Regions from separate parts of the Homo sapiens genome. Here region 2 is linked to region 1. Evidence: fine-mapped expression QTL. A gene starts in region 1. The other region holds a variant in brackets. All regions are shown on one strand. Distances are between the middles of the regions.

Region 1 (10,087 bases):
TTAGTGGCCATCTGTTGAGGGTTAACGTATTCCATGTCCTTTAATCCCCACAACAATTCTGAGGTAGGTATTATTTCACTTTATGGATAAAAAGACTCAGAGGTAAAGTTACATGCTAGTTACCCACAGTAAAAGTGTTAAAAACAAGCCAGCCGTGGTGTGCACACCCATAGTCCCAGCTACTTGAAGGGAGGCTGAGGCAAGAGGATCGCTTGAGCTTAGGAGTTGGAGGCTGCAGTGAGTCACGATTGTTCCACTGCAGTCTAGCCTGGGCAACAGAGTGAGACCCTGTCTCAAAAAACAAACAAAAACACCCATAAAACAAAAAAAAGTGTCAAAAACAGAAGTAGAACCCGGTTTTAATGAAATCTAAACCCTACTGCTTCCTAATGACTAAGGGAAGGATAATGACATGTGAAAAACAACAAGGATCACACCTCAGCTATTCAGTTGTAGTAGAATTAAATTTTGCCTTGTTAAAAAAAAATGATCCAGCCAGGCACAGTGGCTTATGCCTGTAATCCCAGCACTTTAGGAGGCCAAGGCAGGTGGATCATGAGGTCAGGAGTTTGAGACCAGCCTGGCTAACATGGTGAAACCCTGTTTCTACTAAAATATGAAAAATTAGTTGGGCGTGGTGGCAGGTGCCTGTAATCCCAGCTACTTTGGAGGCTGAGGCAGGAGAATCATTTGAACCCAGGAAGCAGAGGTTGCAGTGAGCTGAGATTGCACCATTGTACTCCATCCTGGGTGACAGGGTGAGACTCTGTCTCAAAAATAAATTTTAAAAAAAAGATCCAACTGAAGGTTATGTTTCAGAAGAAGAGGGCCTCAAAGAAGCAAAAGAATTACTGGAATGTTAGCAATGCCAAAGGCAGGGAGATCTTGGGTATACTGTAAATCACAAATTGGAAGAATGCACAATAACTGATCATAAGCCTAGCACTTATCTGAGAAAAGTTTATGTATGTCATTATTCATTAATGGAATCATCACATTTGGAACTTACAAGATGAACTCCTAACAATGGCCAACAAGGCTGGATTTGATCTAGTCTCCACCTGTCTCCCTGAACTCCTCTCAGAGTTCTCTCCACCTTTTTGGTTATATTCTGGCCATTCTGACCTTCTCTCCTAAGGGCCTGACATTGCTGTACTATTTTCTCAGAACACTTTTTCTATATATTCTTTCATGGCTACTACCTAAGATCACTTCGATTTTAATCCAGATGTTACTTTCTCTGAAAGACCTAATGGAATCATGCTATATTAAGTAACCCCTCCTCTGGTTATTACTTAGTCTAGCATCTGTTTTTATTATTCTCATGGACTTTATAATTTTTGAATTTTTATTTGTTTTCTAATACATTTAGGAAGTGAGCTTTATCAGATCAGGGACTCATCTTTCTTGTTCTCCAATGACTCTCCAGCTCCCAACTCACAGTAAGCTGAAAACATTTTTTTAATGGAATGGATGAATAAATGAATGAAAGAATGTTACGGGTTTTGGTGTTGGCAGATATACTTAAATGATTCAAGACAGTTTGGAGCCCCAAAATCTGAGCAAGAGAAAGAATTTGAATATTTGAATAGTTAGAAGAGAGAATGAGGATGAACAAAATTGACTATTAGAACCCATTCTGAAAAGTTAATGGCTTTGGCAGTACTTAGTTGAAGGAAGAAAAAGGTGGCTTAAAAGCAATTTTAATTAATAAAATGTTGCTATTAAGAGAATAGTCGTCAGCTGTTCTTTATATGAAACTAACAGGGATGAGTGAAATAATTTTCGGTTAAAAATAAATAACTTTCTAACTGGGGATTATGAGGTACTCCAAAAATATTTTAAAATGTAAACTGTTTCCTTTTAAGAATAAATGGGTGTTTAAGTGCAAACTTGATAAAGGACTGGGACTGGATAATAAAGATGATTTTTTAAAATGTTTACACTCCTTTCGTCACTAAGTTTTTAACTAGTATTGTTTCTTTAACAGTTAATAAATCCAATACTTGTGTAAGTGAAGACTGGTATTTTTCTTCTTTTGCTCTCAGAGTTACCTTGTTAGAGGTCATGATATATCCAGGGCCAAGCTGGAACCAGTGCTCCGGAATCTTGTTTTATGAAGCAGATAGTAAGTCATGTAGAAATTGAGTCAGCGTGATTCTTTACATGGTTAACATGCTGCTTCCCCTGGAGGTGGGGGTGTAGGATTTCTCAAGGAAGGACATTTATAGTGATTAAAATTGCTCAGAGATTGCTTCACTGGGTAATTCTGATGCTGTAGTATGTGATTCTGGCAAGAGAGAGGGAGTATGAAAGGGACAGAAAATCCCAGACCATGGCAAGAAAGGGCACACGATGCAGAGACTACCTCAAGAAAAGGGGCTGTGGCAGTAAGAAAACAGTAACCGAATGGTCAGACTATTGATCAGAAATCCTTCTTGGTTGCCTCCTGAGAAGGAATTGAGAGCATAAATGTCCAAGGGCAATGACTGCCCATTAACTCACCATCATCCTACAATATTTAGCATAGTTCCAAGAACAAACTGGCAAAAGAGATTTTGGCAGCTGATATTTTTCTGGGAAATTAAGTGGAAAGCACCCTCCAGGACAAAAAGGCCAAGAATAAATACTAAACATGTGCATATCTTAAAAGCCAACAATTTCACTCATAGTCATGTGTCCCCCACAAATGTGTATGTATATGCATAAAGATGTACATAGGTTGGGCACGGTGGCTCACGCCTGTAATCCCAGCACTTTGGGAGGCTGAGGTGGGTGGATCACCTGAGGTCAGGAGTTCGAGGTCAGCCTGACCAACATGGCAAAACCCTGTCTCTATTAAAAATACAAAAATTTAGCGAGGTGTGGTGGTGGGCACCTATAATCCCAGCTACTTGGGAGGCTGAGGCAGGAGAATTGCTTGAACCCGGGAGGCAGAAGTCACAGTGAGCTGAGATCACACCATTGCACTCCAGCCTGGGCAACAAGAGCAAGACTCTGTCTCAAAAAAAATGTACATAAACATTTTTAGCAATGATATTCATAATTGCACAAAACTGGAAACAACCCAAATGCCCATTAGCAATAAAATGGATAGAATATCATATATCCTTGTGATGGAACACTACACAGCAATAAGAATGAACAAACTACAGGTACATGTAATAAGATAGATCAGTGTCACACAGTGTTATGGTTCCATTTATATAAAGTTCAAGACCAAGAGAAACTACCTGATGGTATTCGAAGACAGGATAGTAGTAGAGAGGAGTGTTGGGTAGTGGAGAGGAAGGTCAGGTAGTGAAGGAGCTGGTGTTTACATGAATTTGTTGAAGGAGCTGGTGGTTACATGAATTTGTTCACTTTGTGATAATTCATCAAGTTGTACACTTAAGATTTCTGCATTTTTCCAAATGTATGTTATGCTTTAATACAAAGTTTGATAGGGAGAAGAAATAATACTGCCTTCCAAAGTAAAATGAATGACATTGGGTGGGATAAAAAAAACAGAGGGACCCTGTGTCAAGCCTGTCTTAGGGTCTTCAGACAGCATGAGTCTCGCTGTCTCCATTTTGAAGATGGGCAACAACTGCAGGGATAAGAATAGCCCATGGCTGACAGTGCATTTGCTTCTACTTGTCCTGGTCAAGGTTTTCTAATTCGGGCCCAAGAGAGTATTCATGTCTCCAGGAGGCCACCCTATGGCACGTTAGGCATTCTTGAGAGACTGGCGGCCTCAGTCCTTGTGTTTGGAGCAGTTCTGCTAGAGGAGGAAACAGCACAAAGGGCACTCTTATGCTGCTGTAAACCAGTGCCAGGATTTTTAAAATGTGAGACACCTGTTACCCTGTAAGTATTAATTTCAACTTGAGGTCTCTAGCTTTTTAATTTGCTGGATACATTCTTTTATATGAAATGTGATGGGCATTTCTGACGTGGAAGAAATTGGGACCAGTAAAGCCGGGAAGAAAGCAAAATGGGGTAGCAGGGGCCCTTTTCTCAGCTTCTAATGAAATATTTGTAGTCAAGACCAAGCACACATATTGATTCTCATCAAGTGTGAAATCGTTGGCGGCCCTGGAGGTGAGCCCCACGGGACCATTTGTACCGCACTCTTTCAAATGAACAGATTAAATCTCTCGTAAGATGCTGTTTTTGACACACTCGTACTGCATATATTAAAATCCTCCCTGGTGCCCTTTTGGCGGTTAGGATTCAGGTAGTTCCAGTGCATCACAGCCTGTGTACCAGCTGGAAAGGATATTTTTTTTTTCTTCCCTGGAATGTGTAAAGGAAGAATTATATTGCTGTTTGTTGAAAGAGACTATATGTCTCGCAAGTCCCACTTCAATAATCTTCTAGAAGCAAGAATGAATTTGGGATTGGAAAGGGCATTACAACATGGCTAAATAAATAGCAAGGGGTCTCTCAACACCTGGTTAGCCTGCAATGTTACAATATGACTTCTAGGTCTTACATTTCAGTCTCTTTCTTCAGCAAACAGAGTCTGAAAGGTCTTACACAAAGACAGAATTTTAAGTCTGAACACTCAAGAAATGTGGTCTTCACACTCTAAAGCTGTCACTAATTCCTTGAGAAGCACCAGAAACTTTCTGACTAAACCTTTTTATGTCTTCAATAATGGTTAAATCCAATATACCTTAGGGTTTCCCTCAGATTTAGTCTTCATATTCTTTAGCTTTTGCTAAAGAATTTTAGCAAAATTTCTTATTTTGCATTTCTCTAGCTTCATGACTGGGCTGTCATCATAGGTATATAAGACCATGTACAGGGCTGTGCATTAATATTGCAAGTCTGGAAATTCCAGATATCTTGGCAAAGGGAGAAACAACTTGTGGTTGGAGCTTGGAGGATGAGGAACCAACAAGTTCTGAGTCCTCATGTCTTATGCTTAGGCTGATTCCATTTCTTCCCTCAAATTGTAAATATTTATTTAGGTGTAAAGGAGAGGGCCTATCTAAAGCAGACTGGTGTGTGAGTAGAGTTATTTTCATAGTGTGTCCTCTCCCAGTGATTTATGTTTCCTAGAATATTGATGAAAAATGGATGAGCTCCCGCAACATCTCCTGCCACTCTCCCCCTCACATATTGGACTACAGACATTCTGGCCTTCTTCAGTTCATTCTTTAGTATGATATGCTGTTCTTTCTTCCTGAATTGTTCTTCTAATCTTTCTTTGAATGAATGTTTTTATTCCCTTTCAAGTCTTACCTTAGAAGTAAGTCCTCTCTTCAGAAGGGTCTTACTTATCACCCTATCTAAAGTAGGTTCCACTCCTCTCATCCCATATTGCAATACTTCATTTGGTGGACTCATAGCTTATAATAATTGAATCATTTATTGATTATTGTCCTCACTTAGACTATAAATTCCATGAGACAGTGCTCATGGTTATATTGTTTACTGAATTGATTCTACCTAAGTGTCTATCAACAGAGAAATGGATGTTTGGATAGTGCTATTGTCCTATTGCCATTGTGACAAGGGCTCAGATAAACATGCAAGTGCACATATTCATGTACTGATTTCTTTTTCCTTTGGATAAATACTCAGAAGTAGGATTGCTGGATTGTATGGTAGTTCTATTTTTTGGTTTTTAAAGAAATCGTCATACTATTTTTCATAGTGGTTGTACTAATTTACCTTCCCATCAACAGTGTTTAAGAGTTTCCTTTTCTCTGCATTCTCACCAGAATCTGATATTTTTCATCTTTTTAATGACAGCCATTCTAACTGGAGTAAGATGATATCTCATTGTGGTTTCCATTTGCATTTCTCTGATGCATAGTGATGTTGGGTATTTTTTCATATACCATTTGTATATGGCCATTTGTGTGCCTTACTTTCAGAAATATCTGTTCATATCCTTTGCCCACTTTTTAATATGATTATTTGTGGGGTTTTTTTTGGTTGTTGAATTGTTTGAGTTCCTTGATATTCTGGATATTAATGCCTTGTTGGATGAATAGCTTACAAATATTTTCTCCCATTTTACAGGTTGTCTTTTCACTCTCTTGGTTGTTTCTTTTGATATGCAGAAGCTTTTTGGTTTAATATGCTACCATTTGTCTATTTTAGTTTTTGTTGCCTGTGATTTTGAGGTCTTAGGTGTAAGATCTTTGCCCGGACCAATGTACTGAAGAGTTTTCCCTCTGTTTTCTTCTAGTAGTTTTATAGTTTTAAGTGTTTAAGTCTATAATGTACCTTGAATTAATATGTGATGTAGTGAAGATAGGGGCTTAGATAGAAGATACCTATATTCTTCTGCATGTAGATATCCAAATTTCCCATCACCATTAATTGAAGATACTGTCATTTCCCCAATGGATGTTCTTGGCACATTTGTCAAAAATCAGTAGGCTGTAAATACATGGATTTATTTCTGGATTCTCTATTTTTTTTTTTCTTTCCTGAGAGAGAGTCTTGCTCTGTTGCCCAGGCTGGAGTACAGAGGCAAATCTCAGCTCACTGCAACCTTCGTCTCATAGGTTTAAGCGATTCTCCTGCCTCTCCCTCCTGAGTAGCTGGGATTACAGGTGCATACCACCATGCCTGGCTAATTTTTTGTATTTTTAGTAGAGACGGGTTTTTGCCACGTTGGCCAGACTGAGCTCAAACTCCTGGCCTTAAGTGATCTGCCTGCCTCGGGTTCCCAAAGTTCTGGGATTACAGGCATGAGCCATCGCACCTGGCCTGGATTCTCCATTCTATTCCATTAGTCTATGTAACTGTTTTTATACTAATACTATGCTGTTTTAGTTAAAGTCTTGTAATATATATTAAAATCAGGTAAGGTGATGCCCCTAGCTTTGTTCTTTTTGTTCATGTTGCTTTGGTTTTTGGGCTCTTACTTGGCCCCATGAAAATTTTAGGATTGTTTTTTCTAATTCTGTGAAAAATGACATTGGTATTTTGATAGGGATTCCATTGAAACTGTTGATTGCTTTGGGCAGCATGGCCATTTTAACAATATTAATTCTTCTGATCCATGAGCATGAAATGTATTTCCATTTTTTTGTGTTCTCTTCAATTTATTTCACCAGTACTTTATAGTTTTCCTTGTACAGGTCTTTTATCTTAGTTAAATTTATTCCTAGGTATTTCATTATCTTCTTGTAGCTATTATAAGTGGTATTGCATTCTTAATTTCTTTCTCAGCTACTTCATTATTGTGTATACAAATGCTACTGATTTTTGAAATTGATTTTGTATCCTGAAACTTTATTGAATTTATGAGGTCTAAAACGTTTTTGGTGAAGTCTTTAGGTTTTCCTAGACATAAAATTATATTATTGGTAAAGAGAGAATTTCACTTCCTCGTTTCCAATTTGGGTGCCTTTTATTTCTTTCTCTTGCCTGATTGTTCTGACGAGGATTTCTAGTACTATGTTGAATAGGAGTGGTGAAAGTGGGCATTCTTGTTTTATTATAGTTCTTAGAGGGAAGGCTTTCACCTTTTCTTCATTTAGTATGATCTTAGCTGTGGGTTTGTCATATGTGCCTTCCATTATGTTGAGGTACATCTTTTCTATGCCTATTTTGTTGAGGTTTTTATCATGAAGGGATGTTGAAATTTATCAAATACTTTCTCTGCATTCATTGAAATAATTGTATGGTTTTTATTCTTCATTCTGTTGATGTGAGGTGTCACACTGATTGATTTGCATATGTTGAGCAACCCATGAATCACTGGGATAAATACCTGGGATCATGGTGTATTATTTTTTTGATGTGCTGTTGGATTTGCCTTGCTAGTATTTTGTTGAGGATTTTTGCATTGTGCATCTATGTTCATCAGGGCTATTAGCCTACAGTTTTTTTTAGTGGTTGTTTTACATTCTTATCTGATTTTAGCCTGAGGGTAATTCTGGCCTTGTAGAATGAATTAGAAAGAATTGTTTCCTCTCCAATGTTTGAAATAGTTTGAGGAGAATTGGTGTTAGTTTTTCTTTGAATTCGGTAGAATTCAGCAGTGAAGCCATCTGGTCCTGGACTTTTCTTTGTTAGAGAAATTTTTTTTACTGCTTTGATCTCATTACTTGTTGTTGGTCTATTTGGGTTTTCTAATTTTTTTTATTCAGTCTTGGTAGACTGTATGTGTCTAGGAATTTATCCATTTCTTTTAGGTTTTCCAGTTTGTTTATCTATAGTTGTTCAAATAGTCTCTGACCTATTTTATTTCTGTGGTACCAGGTGTAATATCTTTCTCATTTCTGTTTTCTTTGTTTGTCTTTTCACTTTTTTCCTTGGTTAGTATAGCAAGTAGTTAATTTTTTATTTGTTTGAAAAAAACAACTTTTTGTTCCATTTATCCTTTGTTTTTTTCTGTATCTTATTTCTTTCTTCTCTGATCTTTATTTTTGTTTCTTCTAATTTTGGTTTGGTTTGGTCTTGTTTTTCTAGTTGCCTGAGGTGCATCATTAGATTGTTTATTTTAAATCTTACTATTTTTTGATGTAGGTATTTATGGCTCCAAGCTTTCCTCATAGCACTGCTTTTGCTGTATCTCATAGGTTTTGGTATTTTGTATTTTGATTTCATTCATTTTATTTTTTATTTCCTCCATTTCTTTTTTGACCCAATAATGGTCATTCAGGAGCATATTGTTATTGTTTGCTTTCCATGTATTTGCACAATTTCCAAAGTTTCTCTTACCATTTTTAAAAATTTTAGATCCATGGGGTAAATGTGCAGGTTTATTACATGGCATAATGATGAGGTTTGTGTTTCTATTGATCTTGTTACCCGAATAGTAAATATAGTACCCAATAGAGAGTTTTTCAACCTTCCATCACCCCAACTTCCCTTTGGAGTCCTCATTGTATTATTTCTATCTTTATATCTGTGTGTATCCAATGTTCAGTTCCCACTTATAAGTGAGAACATGATATTTGTTTTTTTGTTTCTGCATTAATTTGCTAAGGATAATGGCCTCCAGTTGCCTTCATGTTGCCGCAAAGGAAATTTCATTCTTTTTTATAACTATGTAGTATATTCCATGGTGTGTATGTACATTTTCTTTATCCAATCCACCACTGATGGGCCCCTACATTGATTTCATGTCTTTGCTATTGTGAATATTACTGTGATAAATATGAGTGCAGGTATTTTTTTAAGCAGAATGATTTATTTTTCTTTGAGTATATAGCCAGTATTGAGACTGCTGAGTCAAATGTAATTGTATTTTTAGTTCTTTGAAAGTCTCCAAACTCCTTTCCACAGGGGCCATTTGCGATAGAAGTGCTACTGATTTTTATACATTGATTTTGTATCCTGAAACTTTACTGAAGTTGTTTATTAGGTCTGGGAGTCTTTTGGCAGGATCTTTTGTTTTTTTTTTTTTTAGATATAGGATTATATCATCAGTGAAGAGAGGTAATCTGACTTCTTCTCTTTCTATTTGGGTGCCATTTATTTCTTTATCTTGCCTGATTGCTCTGGCTAGGACTTCCAGTACTATGTTGAATAGGAGAGGTGAGAGTAGACATCCTTGTCTTGTTTCAGTTCTTAGGGGGAATGCCTCCAACTTTGTCCATTCAGTACGATATTGGCTGTGGGTCTGTCATAGATGGCTCTTATTATTTTGAGACATGTTCCTATAATGCCTAGTTTTTTGAGAGTTTTTATCATGAAGGGACATTACATCTTATCAAAAGTTGTTTCTGCATTTATTCAGATGGTTTTTAATTATTTATGTGGTGAATCACATTAAAATTTTTTTATAATTTCAACTTTTATTTTAGTTTCAGGGGGTACATGTGCAGGTTGTTACAAGGGTATATTGCATGATGATGAGGTTTGGTTTACAAATGATCCCATCGCCCAGATAGTGAACACAATACCCAACAGTTAGTTTTTCAACCCTTGCCCTCTTCCTCACTCCCTGCAGTAGTCCCCAGTATCTATCGTTCCCATATTTATGTCCAGAGTACCCGGTGTTTGGCTCTCACTTATAAATGAGAATATGCAGTATTGGTTTTCTTTTCCTGCATTAATTTGCTTAGGATAATGGCCTTCATGTTGCTGCAAAGGACATGATTTTGTTCTTTTTTATGACTGCCTAGTA
Region 2 (10,087 bases), 79 kb after region 1:
ACATCTAAGTAAACATTTCTAAGTCCATTTCTCTAGCTGGTGAAATTGTTATTTCAATTTGGTGGTTTAACACACATTTTCTGTGCACCCATAAGCATTACACACTGCATATACTCAGAGGGTCTGGTGTAGATAACAGGGTCCTTTCTTGAAAGGAGTGGAGGGTCTGGTGGGGAAGACATACTGTATATATAAACAGATATTTTCGCGAGTGTTCTCTCCAAGCTGCCTTCTGTCAGCATCACAGTGGATGGTCCTGTACCCATTGTTCCCAGAACATCTTTGTGCAGGGAACAAACCAGAGCAGGATCATTTTGTCTGTTAAGCAATACAGACATAGTTATTTGGGCATAGGAATTTTTCATGGGCCTATAAATATGGGTGTGTATTCTAAAATGCAACACAACAACAGAAAATTAAGATTACCAAATTTCAAATTAAATGTCTATAGAAAATATAATGTTAACTTCTCTATTTTTAAAACTGAGTATTCATGAATTTTAGGTTAGACACCTTCACTTCTCAGGAATTCCTGGTTATGTGTGATGAGTTCTAAAAAATCACAGCCAATTATTAAAACCATTAAACAATATTTGTAGCCAAATATTGTCAAAAGAAAAAGCATAACAATCTTTTAAAAATTTATTAAAATTTTAATAGAAAAATTAAAGTGAAATGTACATGCACTTTTAATGTACTTGAGGTAACGTGGGGAGAGATTATGATGATCTTTTAATTGCCTTTTAATTGAGCTAAGACAGAAGCTGAGCAGAAAAGGGGTTGGGATGTGCATGCTCTCAAAGGGAGGGTGTACTACAGTTACGGAGAGGAGAAGTCATGAGCAAAAGAACAGAAGTATGACTGATTGACTGACTATAGATCGAATTGGAATAAAGGGATGATTGATATTGAAACAGTGGTTTTCAAACTTGACCAACATCACAATCACTTGGAGGATTTGTTAAGGCATATTGCTATTCCCTGCCTCCAGAGTTTTTGACTTAGCAGGTCTTGATTGGACCCTAGAATGTGCATTTCTGTCAAGTTCTCGGTAATAAAAATTTATGTTGCTGTTCCACACTGCATTTTGAAAACCAATGGTCTGAGATAATATGCAACTTTTTTTGCCTTGAACACCCAGGTATTTGGTAATACTATTAATTGTCTTAGGAAGTTCAGATGAAGGGACAACATAGAGGAGTGGGAAATAGAAAAGATGATGAATTTGGCTTTTTTAAGGAAACAGAAGAAAATCCATCAAAGCCAAACCTACAGAAGGTCTTCTAGTATGCCTCAATAAAATGTGAAAGCAACTCCTGTTATTCAAAGTAATATTATTTTCTTATTTTAAAATCTTATTTTAACTCAAGTTAAAGCATTGAAGTTACCTAAGATGCTAGTATTTGATACATGATACATTGGAATCTGTGTTTTACCCTGGTTTATAAATAGCTTAAAATCCACTTTTATTTATTTATTTTTTATTATACTTTAAGTTCTGGGGTACATGAGCAGAACGTGCAGTTTTTTTACATAGGTATACACGTGTCTTAGTGATTTTCTGCACCTATCAACCTGTCACCTACATTAGGTATTTCTCCTAATGCTATCCCTCCCCTAGACCCTCACCTCTTGACAGGCCCCGGTGTCCATATGTTCTCATTGTTCCCCTCTCTGTGTCCCCGGTGATGCTCCCCTCTCTGTGTCCATATGTTCTCATTGTTCAGCTCCCAATTATGAGTGAGAACATGTGCTGTTTGGTTTTCTGTTCTTGTGTTAGTTTGCTGAGAATGATAGTTTCCAGCTTCATCCATGTCCCTGCAAAGGATGTGAACTCATCCTTTCCATTGGCTGCATAGTATTCCATGGTTTGTATGTGCCACATTTTCCTTATCCAGTCCATCATTGATAGACATTTGAGTTAGTTCCAAGTCTTTGCTATTGTGAATAGTACTGCAATAAACATACGTGTGCATGTGTCTATAGTAGAATGATTTATAATCCTTTGGGTATATACCCAGTAATGGGATTGCTGGGTCAAACGGTATTTCTTGTTCCAGATCCTTGAGGAATCGCCACACTGTCTTCCACAATGGTTGAACTAATTTACACTCCCACCAACAGTGTAAAAGCGTTTCTATTTCTCCACATCCTCTCCAGCATCTGTTGTTTCCTGAGTTTTTAATGATTGCAATTTGATACACGATACATTGGAATCTGTGTTTTACACTAGTTTATAAATAGCTTCTAATTGGTGTGAGATGGTATCTCACTGAGGTTTTGATTTGCATTTTTCTAATGACCAGTGATGATGAGCTTTTTTCCATATGTTTTTTTCTTGACTACATAAATGTCTTCTTCTGAAAAGTGTCTCTTCATAGCCTTCACCCACTTTTTGATGGGGTTGTTTTTCTCTTGTGAATTTGTTGAAGTTCCTTGTAGATTCTGGGTATTAGCCCTTTTGTCAGATAGATAGATTGCAAAAAATTTCTCCCAGTCTGTAGGTTGCCTGTTCACTCTGATGATAGTTTCTTCTGCTGTGCAGAAGCTCTTTACTTTAATTAGATCCCATTTGTCAATTTTGGCTTTTGTTGCCATTGATTTTGGTGTTTTAGACATGAAGTCTTTGCCCATGCCTATGTCCTGAATGGTATTGCCTAGGTTTTCTTTTAGGATTTGTATGATTTTAGGTCTTACATTTAAGTCTTTAATCTATCTTGAGTTAATTTTTCTATAAGGTGTATGGAAGGGGTCCAGTTTCAGTTTTCTGCATATGGCTGGCCAGTTATCCCAACACCATTTATTAAATAGGAAGTCCTTTCCCCATTGCTTGTTTTTGTCAGGTTTGTCAAAGATCAGATGGTTGTAGATGTATGGTGTTATTTCTGAGGCCTCTGTTCTGTTCTAGTAGTCTATATATCTCTTTTGGTACCAGTATCATGGTGTTTTGGTTACTGTAGCCTTGTAGTATTGTTTGAAGTCAGGTATCATGAAACCTCCAGCTTTGTTCTTTTTGCTTAGGATTGTCTTGGCTATGTGGGCTCTTTTTCATTTCCATATGAAGTTTAAAGTAGTTTTTTCTAATTCTGTGAAGAAAGTCAATGGTAGCTTGATGGGGATAGCATTGACTCTAGAAATTACTTTGGGCAGTATGGCCATTTTCATGATATTGATTCTTCCTATCCTTGAGCATGGGATGTTTTTCCATTTGTTTGTGTCCTCTCTTATTTCCTTGAGCAGTGATTTGTAGTTCTCCTTGAAGAGGTCCTTCACATCCCTTGTAAGTTGTATTCCTAGGTATTTTATTCTCTTTGTAACAATTGTGAATGGGAGTTCACTCATAATTTGGCTCTCTGTTCGTCTGTTATTGATGCATAAGGGTGCTTGTGATTTTTGCACATTGATTTTGTGTCCTGAGACTTTGCTGAATTTGCTTATCAGCTTAAGGAGATGTTGGGCTGAGATGGTGGGGTTTTCTAAATATAAAATCATGTCATCTGCAAACAGAGACAATTTGACTTCCTCTCTTCCTATTCGAATACTCTGTTTATTAGCATGAAGGAGCATTGAATTTTGTCGAAGGCCTTTTCTGCATCTATTGAGATAATCATGTGGTTTTTGTCATTGGTTCTCTGTATGTGATGGATTACATTTATTGATTTGTGTGTATTGAACCAGCCTTGCATCCCAGATATGAAGCCAACGTAATCATGGTGGATAAGCTTTTTGATGTGCTGCTGGATTTGGTTTGCCAGTATTTTATTGAGAATTTTTTCATCGATGTTCCTCAGGGATATTGGCCTGACATTTTCTTTTTTTGTTGTGTCTCTGCCAGGTTTTGGTATGAGGATGATGCTGGCCTCATAAAATGAGTTAGGGAAGAGTCCCTCTTTTTCTATTGTTTGGAATAGTTTCAGAAGGAATAGTACCAGCTCCTCTTTGTACCTCTGGTAGAAGTCGGCTGTGAATCCGTCAGGTCCTGGACTTTTTTTGGTTGGTAGGGTGTTAATTACTGCTTCAGTTTCAGAACTTGTTATTGGTTTATTCAGGGATTCGACTTCTTCCTGGTTTAGACTTAGGAGGGTGTATGTGTTCAGGAATTTTCCATTTCTTCTAGATTTTTTAGTTTATTTGCATAGAGGTGTTTATAGTATTCTCTGATGGTAGTTTATATTTCTGTGTGATCAATGGTGATATCCCCTTTTTCATTTTTCAGTGTGTCTATTTGATTCTTCTCTCTTTTCTTATTAGTCTTGCTAGTGGTCTATCTATTTTGTTGATCTTTTCAAAAAACCAGCTCCCGGATTCATTGATTTTTTTTGTAGGGTTTTTGTGTCTCTATCTCCTTCAGTTCTGCTCTGATCTTAGTTATTTCTTGTCTTCTGCTGGCTTTTGAATTTGTTTGTTCTTGCTTCTCTAGTTGTTTTAATTGTGATGTTAGTGTGTCAATTTTAGATATTTCCTGCTTTCTTTTGTGGGCATTTAGTGCTATAAATTTCCCTCTACACACTGCTTTAAATATGTCCCAGAGATTCTAGTACATTGTATCTTTGTTCTTTTTGGTTTCAAAGAACATCTTTATTTCTGTCTTAATTTTGTTATTTACCCAGTAGTCACTTAGGAGCAGATTGTTCAGTTTCCTTGTAGTTGTGTGGTTTTGAGTGAATTTCTTAATCCTGAGTTCTAATTTGATTGCACTGTGGTCTGAGAGA[CTGTT/C]TGTTATGATATCCATTTGATTGCATTTGCTGAGGAGTGTTTTACTTCAATCTATGTGGTCAAGTTTAGAATAAGTGCAATGAGGCGCTGAGAAGAATGTATAGGCTGTTGATTTGGGGTGGAGAGTTCTGTAGATGTCTATTAGATCTGCTTGGTCCAGAGCTCAGTTCAAGTCCTAAATATTCATGTTAATTTTCTGTCTCGTTGATCTGTCTAATGTTGACAGTGGGGTGTTAAAGTCTCTCACTATTATTGTGTGGGAGTCTAAGTCTCTTTGCAGGTCTCTAAGAATATATATATATATATATATATATGCAACAAGAAGAGCTAATATATATATATATATAAACAAGAAATAACTATATATAGTTAACAAGAAATAACTATACATATATAACTATATTTATTTCTTGTTATATATATATATATATATATATATATATATATATATATATATATATTAGCTCTTCTTGTTGCATTGATCCCTTTACCATTATGTAATGCCGTTCTTTGTCTCTTTTGATCTTTGTTGGTTTAAAATCTGTTTTTTCAGAGACTAGGATTACAACCCCTGCTTTTTGCTTTTTTTTGGTTTCCATTTGCTTGGTAAATATTCCTCCATCCCTTTATTTTGAACCTATGTGTGTCTTTGCACATGAGATATGTCTCCTGAATACAGCACACCGATGGGTCTTGACTCTTTTTCCAATTTGCCAGTCTGTGTCTTCTAATTGGGGCATTTAGCCCATTTACAATTAAAGTTAATATTGTTATGTGTGAATTTGATCCTATCATTATGATGGTAGCTGGTTATTTTTTCCGTTTCTGATGCTGTTTCTTCATAGCATTGATGGTCTTTACAATTTGGCATGTTTTTGCAGTAGCCGTTACTGGTTGTTCCTTTCCATATTTAGTGCTTCCTTCAGGAGCTCTTGTAATGCAGGCCTGGTGGTGACAAAATCTCTCAGCATTTGCTTGTCTGTAAAGGATTTTATTTCTCCTTTGCTTATGAAGCCTAGTTTGGCTGGATATGAAATTCTGTGTTGAAAATTCTTTTAAGAATGTTGAATATTGGCCCCCACTCCCTTCTGGCTTGTAGGGTTTCAGCCGAGAGACCTGATGTTAGTCTGATGGGCTTCCCTTTGTGGGTAACCTGACCTTTCTCTCTGGCTGCCCTTAACATTTTTTCCTTCATTTCAACCTTGGTGGATCTGACAATTATGTGTCTTGGGATTGCTCTTCTCGAGTAGTATCTTTGTGGTGTTCTCTGTATTTTTAAAATTTGAATGTTGGCCCATCTTGCTAGGTTGGGGAAGTTCTCCTGGATAATATCCTGAAGAGTGTTTTCCAACTTGGTTTCATTATCCCCATCACTGTCAGGTACACCAATCAAATGTGGATTTTGTCTTTTCACATAGTCTGATATTTCTTGAAGGGTTTGTTTGTTCCTTTTCATTCTTTTTTTTTTTCTAATCTTCTCACTTTATATCATTAAGTTCATCTTCAATCTCTGATATCCTTTCTTCCTCTTGATTGATTTGGCTATTGATACTTGTGTATGCTTTACAAAGTTCTCGTGCTGTGTTTTTCAGCTCCATCAGGTCATTTACATTCTTTAAACTGGTTATTCTAGTTTGCAATTCATCTAACTTTTTTTTTGAGGTTCTTAGCTTCCTTGCGTTGGGTTAGAACATGTTCCTTTAGCTCAAAGGGGTTTGTTACTACCCGCCTTCCAAAACCTGCTTCTGTCAATTCATCAAACTCATTTTCCATCCAGTTTTTTTTCCCTTGCTGGTGAGGAGTTGTGATCCTTTGGAGGAGAAGAGGCTTTCTGGTTTTTGGAATTTTCAGCCTTTTTGCACTGGTTTCTCCCCATCTTTTTGGATTTATCTACCTTTGGTCTTTGATATTGGTGACCTTCGTATGGGGCCTCTGAGTGGATGTGCTATTCCTTTCTGTTTGTTAGTTTTCCTTCTAACAGGCCCGTCTGCTTCAGGTCTGTTGGAGTTTGCTGGAGGTCCACTCCAGACCCTGTTTTTCTAGGTATCACCAGTGAAGGCTGCAGAACAGCAAAGATTGCTGCCTGTTCTTTCCTCTGGGAGCTTTGTCCCAGAAGGGCATCCACCAGATGCCAGCCAGGGCTCTCCTGTATGAGATGTCTCTCAGCCCCTACTGGGAGGTGTCTCCCAGTCAGGGACCCACCTGAGGAGGCAGTCTGACCCTTAGCAGAGCTCGAACACTGTGCTGGGAGATCCACTGCTCTCTTCATAGCCTTCAGGCAGGGATGTTTAAGTCTGCTGAAGCTGCACCCACAGCCACCCCTTCCCCCAGGTGCTCTGTCCCAGGGAGATGAGGGTTTTTATAAGTCCCTGACTGGGGCTGCTGCCCTTTTTTCAGAGATGCCCTGCCCAGAGAGGAGTAATCTAGAGAGGCAGTCTGGCCACAGTGGCCTTGCTGAGCTACAGTAGGCTCTGCCCAGTTTGAACTTCCCCATGGCTTTGTTTACACTGTGAGGGTAAAACCACCTCCTCAAGCCTCAGCAATGGCAGACGCCCCTCTTCCCACCAAGCTCGAGTGTCCCAGGTCAACCTGACTGTTGTGCTGGCAGCGAGAATTTCAAGCCTGTGGATCTTAGCTTGCTGGCCTCCTTGGGGTGGGACCCACCAAGCCATACCACTTGGCTCCCTGGCTTCAGCCCCCTTTCCAGGGGAGTGAATGGTTCTGTCTCACTGGCATTCCAGGCACCACTGGGGTATGGAAAAAAAAATAACTCCTGCAGCTAGCTCAGTGTCTGCCCAAATGGATGCCCAGTTTTGTGCTTGAAACCCAGGGCCCTGGTGGTGTAGGCACTGGAGGGAATCTCCTGGTGTGTGGGTTGCGAAGACTGTGGGAAAAGTGCACTATCTGGGCTGGAGTGCACCATTCCTCAGGCACAGTCCTTCATGGTTTCCCTTGGGTAGGGGAGAGAATTCCCTGACCCCTTGTGCTTCCCGGGTGAGGCGACACCCCATCTGCTTTGGTTTGTCCTCCACAGGCTGCACCCACTGTCTAACCAGTCCCAATGAGATGAACCGGGTACCTCAAGTGGAAATGCAGAAATCACCTGCCTTGTGCATCAGTCTCTCTGGGAGCTGCAGACCAGAGCTGTTCCTATTTGGCCATCTTGCCAGCAGTCTCAAAAATCCACTTTTAATAATGAAATTTAATATAACATTTTCAGAACTGCTTCAGACTTGAGCTTGAAAATGACCAATCTGGCACAAAATTCTCAATGTATGGCAAGTATTGTGAAGCTCAAAGTGGTGAAGTGATATTTAAATGTAAGGTACAATATTGTTAAGTACAATATGGTATAGCAGATGTCTAGAATTTTTTCATCTTGCATGACTGAAACTCTATACTCATTGAACTTCCCATTTTTCCCCTTCCCCCAGCCCCTAGAAACCATCATTCTTCTTTCTGCTATTATGCATTTGACTATTTTAGGTATCTCATATAAGTGGAATCATGAAGTATTTATCCTTCTGTGATGGGCTTATTTCACCTAGTGTAATGTCCTCAAAGTTCATACAGGTTGTAGCATATGTCAGAATTTCCTCCTTTTTTATGGCTGATAATATTCTATTGTATGTACATACCACATTTTCTTTATCCATTTATCCATGGATAGATTATACCACTTGGCTACTGTGAATAATGTTCCAATAAACATGAGAGGACAGATATCTCTTTGAGATTCTGATTTCAGTTCTCTTGGAAAAATATCCAGAAGTGGTATTCCTGAATTACATGGTGGTTCTGTTTTTCATTTTTAGAAGAAACTCCATACTGTTTTCCATAATGGCTACACCATTTTAGATTTGCATTAACCATGTGAAAGCATTCCAATTTGTCCACATCCTTGCCGACACGTGTTATTTTCTGTATTTTTTTTTGTATTTTTTGTTTTTAATAATGGTCATCCTAGCAGGTATGATATGTTACCTCATTGTAATTTTGATTTGCATTTTTCTGATGATTCGTGATGTTGAGCATCTTTTCATATACTTGTTGAACATTTGTATGTCATCTTTAGAGAAGTGTCTATTCAGGTACTTTGCCCATTTTAATTATATATATTTTTTGCTATTGAGTTATAGGAGCTCATTACATGCTTTAGATATTAACCCCTTGCTATTGTCTGAATTTTGTGTCCTTTTAAAATTCATATGTTAAAATCTAATCCTCAATGTGTTTGTATTAAGAGGTAGAACCTTTGGGAGGTGACTAGGTCATGAGGGCATAGCTCTCATCACTGGAACTGGTGCCTTTATAGGACCAACTGAGGGAGCTCATTTGCCTCTTCTGCCATGTGAGGATGCAGCAAGAAGGCACCATCTTTGAAGCAGAGAGAGAGCCCTCATCAGACACAGAATCTGCTGGTATCTTGATCTAGGACTTTCTAGCATCCAAAACTAAGAGCAATAAAATTGTTGTTTATAAATTACCCAGTCTAAGATATTTTGTTACAGTAGCCCAAACAGACTAAGACACCCCTTATTATATACAAACATACCTTGAAGATATTGCAGGTTTGGTTACTGAACACTGCAATGAAGTATTGCAATAAAGTGAGTCACACAAGTTTTTTGGTTTCCCAGTACATATAAAAGTTATGTTTATACTATACTGTAGTATATTAAGTGAGCAATAACATTATGTCTTCAAAAAGTACATATCTTAATTCAAAAATACTGTATTGCTGAAAAAAATCATAATAATTATCTGAGTTTTTTGCTGGTGGAGGGTTTTACCTCAATCTTGATGGCTGCTGGCTGATCAGTGTGGTGGTTGCTGAAGGTTGGGTGGCTGTGGCAATTTCTTAAGATGAGACAACAATGAAGTTTGCCACATCAATTGACTCTTCCTTTCATGACAGATTTCTTTGCATCATGTGATGCTGTTTGCATGTGATAGCATTTTACTCACAGTAGAACTTCTTTCAAAATCAGAGTCAGTCCTCTCAAATCCTGCTGCTGCTCCATCAACTAAATTTATTTAACATTCTAATTGTTTTGTTGTCGTTTCAACGATGTTCATTTCAACGATGTTCATAGCGTCTTCATCAGGAGAGCTTTCATCTTAAGAAACCACTTTCCTTGCTCATTCATAGAAAGCAACTGCTCATCCATCCAAGTTCTATCATGAGATAGCAGCAATTTAGTCATATTTTCAGGGTCCATTTCTTTCTAGATCTCTTACTGTTTCTATCACATTTGCAGTAATCTCCTCCACTGAAGTCTTGAATGCCTCAGTTATCCATGAGATTACATTAAGTTCTAAACTCCTGTTAGTGTTGATATTTTCACCCCTCCCATGAATCATAAATGTT

Alleles and levels. Positions count from the first base shown, and alleles are read on the strand shown. Sizes are in standard deviations (SD) of each study's normalised expression.
With allele CTGTT in place of C in region 2, the expression in prefrontal cortex of the gene that starts at base 3,727 in region 1 is lower (moderate effect, 0.41 SD a copy in BrainSeq).

What was found. PIP is the estimated chance that this variant, and not a neighbour inherited with it, causes the effect.
Region 2: its variant is the best candidate, but not a certain one, in a credible set for the expression of LANCL1-AS1 in prefrontal cortex (BrainSeq, PIP 0.89).

The regions. Positions count from the first base shown.
Region 1 is chr2:210,320,986-210,331,072 of GRCh38, forward strand. It overlaps LANCL1-AS1 (LANCL1 antisense RNA 1), which reads left to right and starts at 3,727. Exons shown (of 5, transcript NR_110606.1): 1 at 3,727-3,849.
Region 2 is chr2:210,399,768-210,409,854 of GRCh38, forward strand. The region is part of intron 1 of LANCL1-AS1 (LANCL1 antisense RNA 1); the gene reads left to right. Among named protein-coding and RNA genes, the nearest start is that of LANCL1, 72 kb to the right of the region's middle. The variant CTGTT/C (reference allele first, on the strand shown) is at 4,713.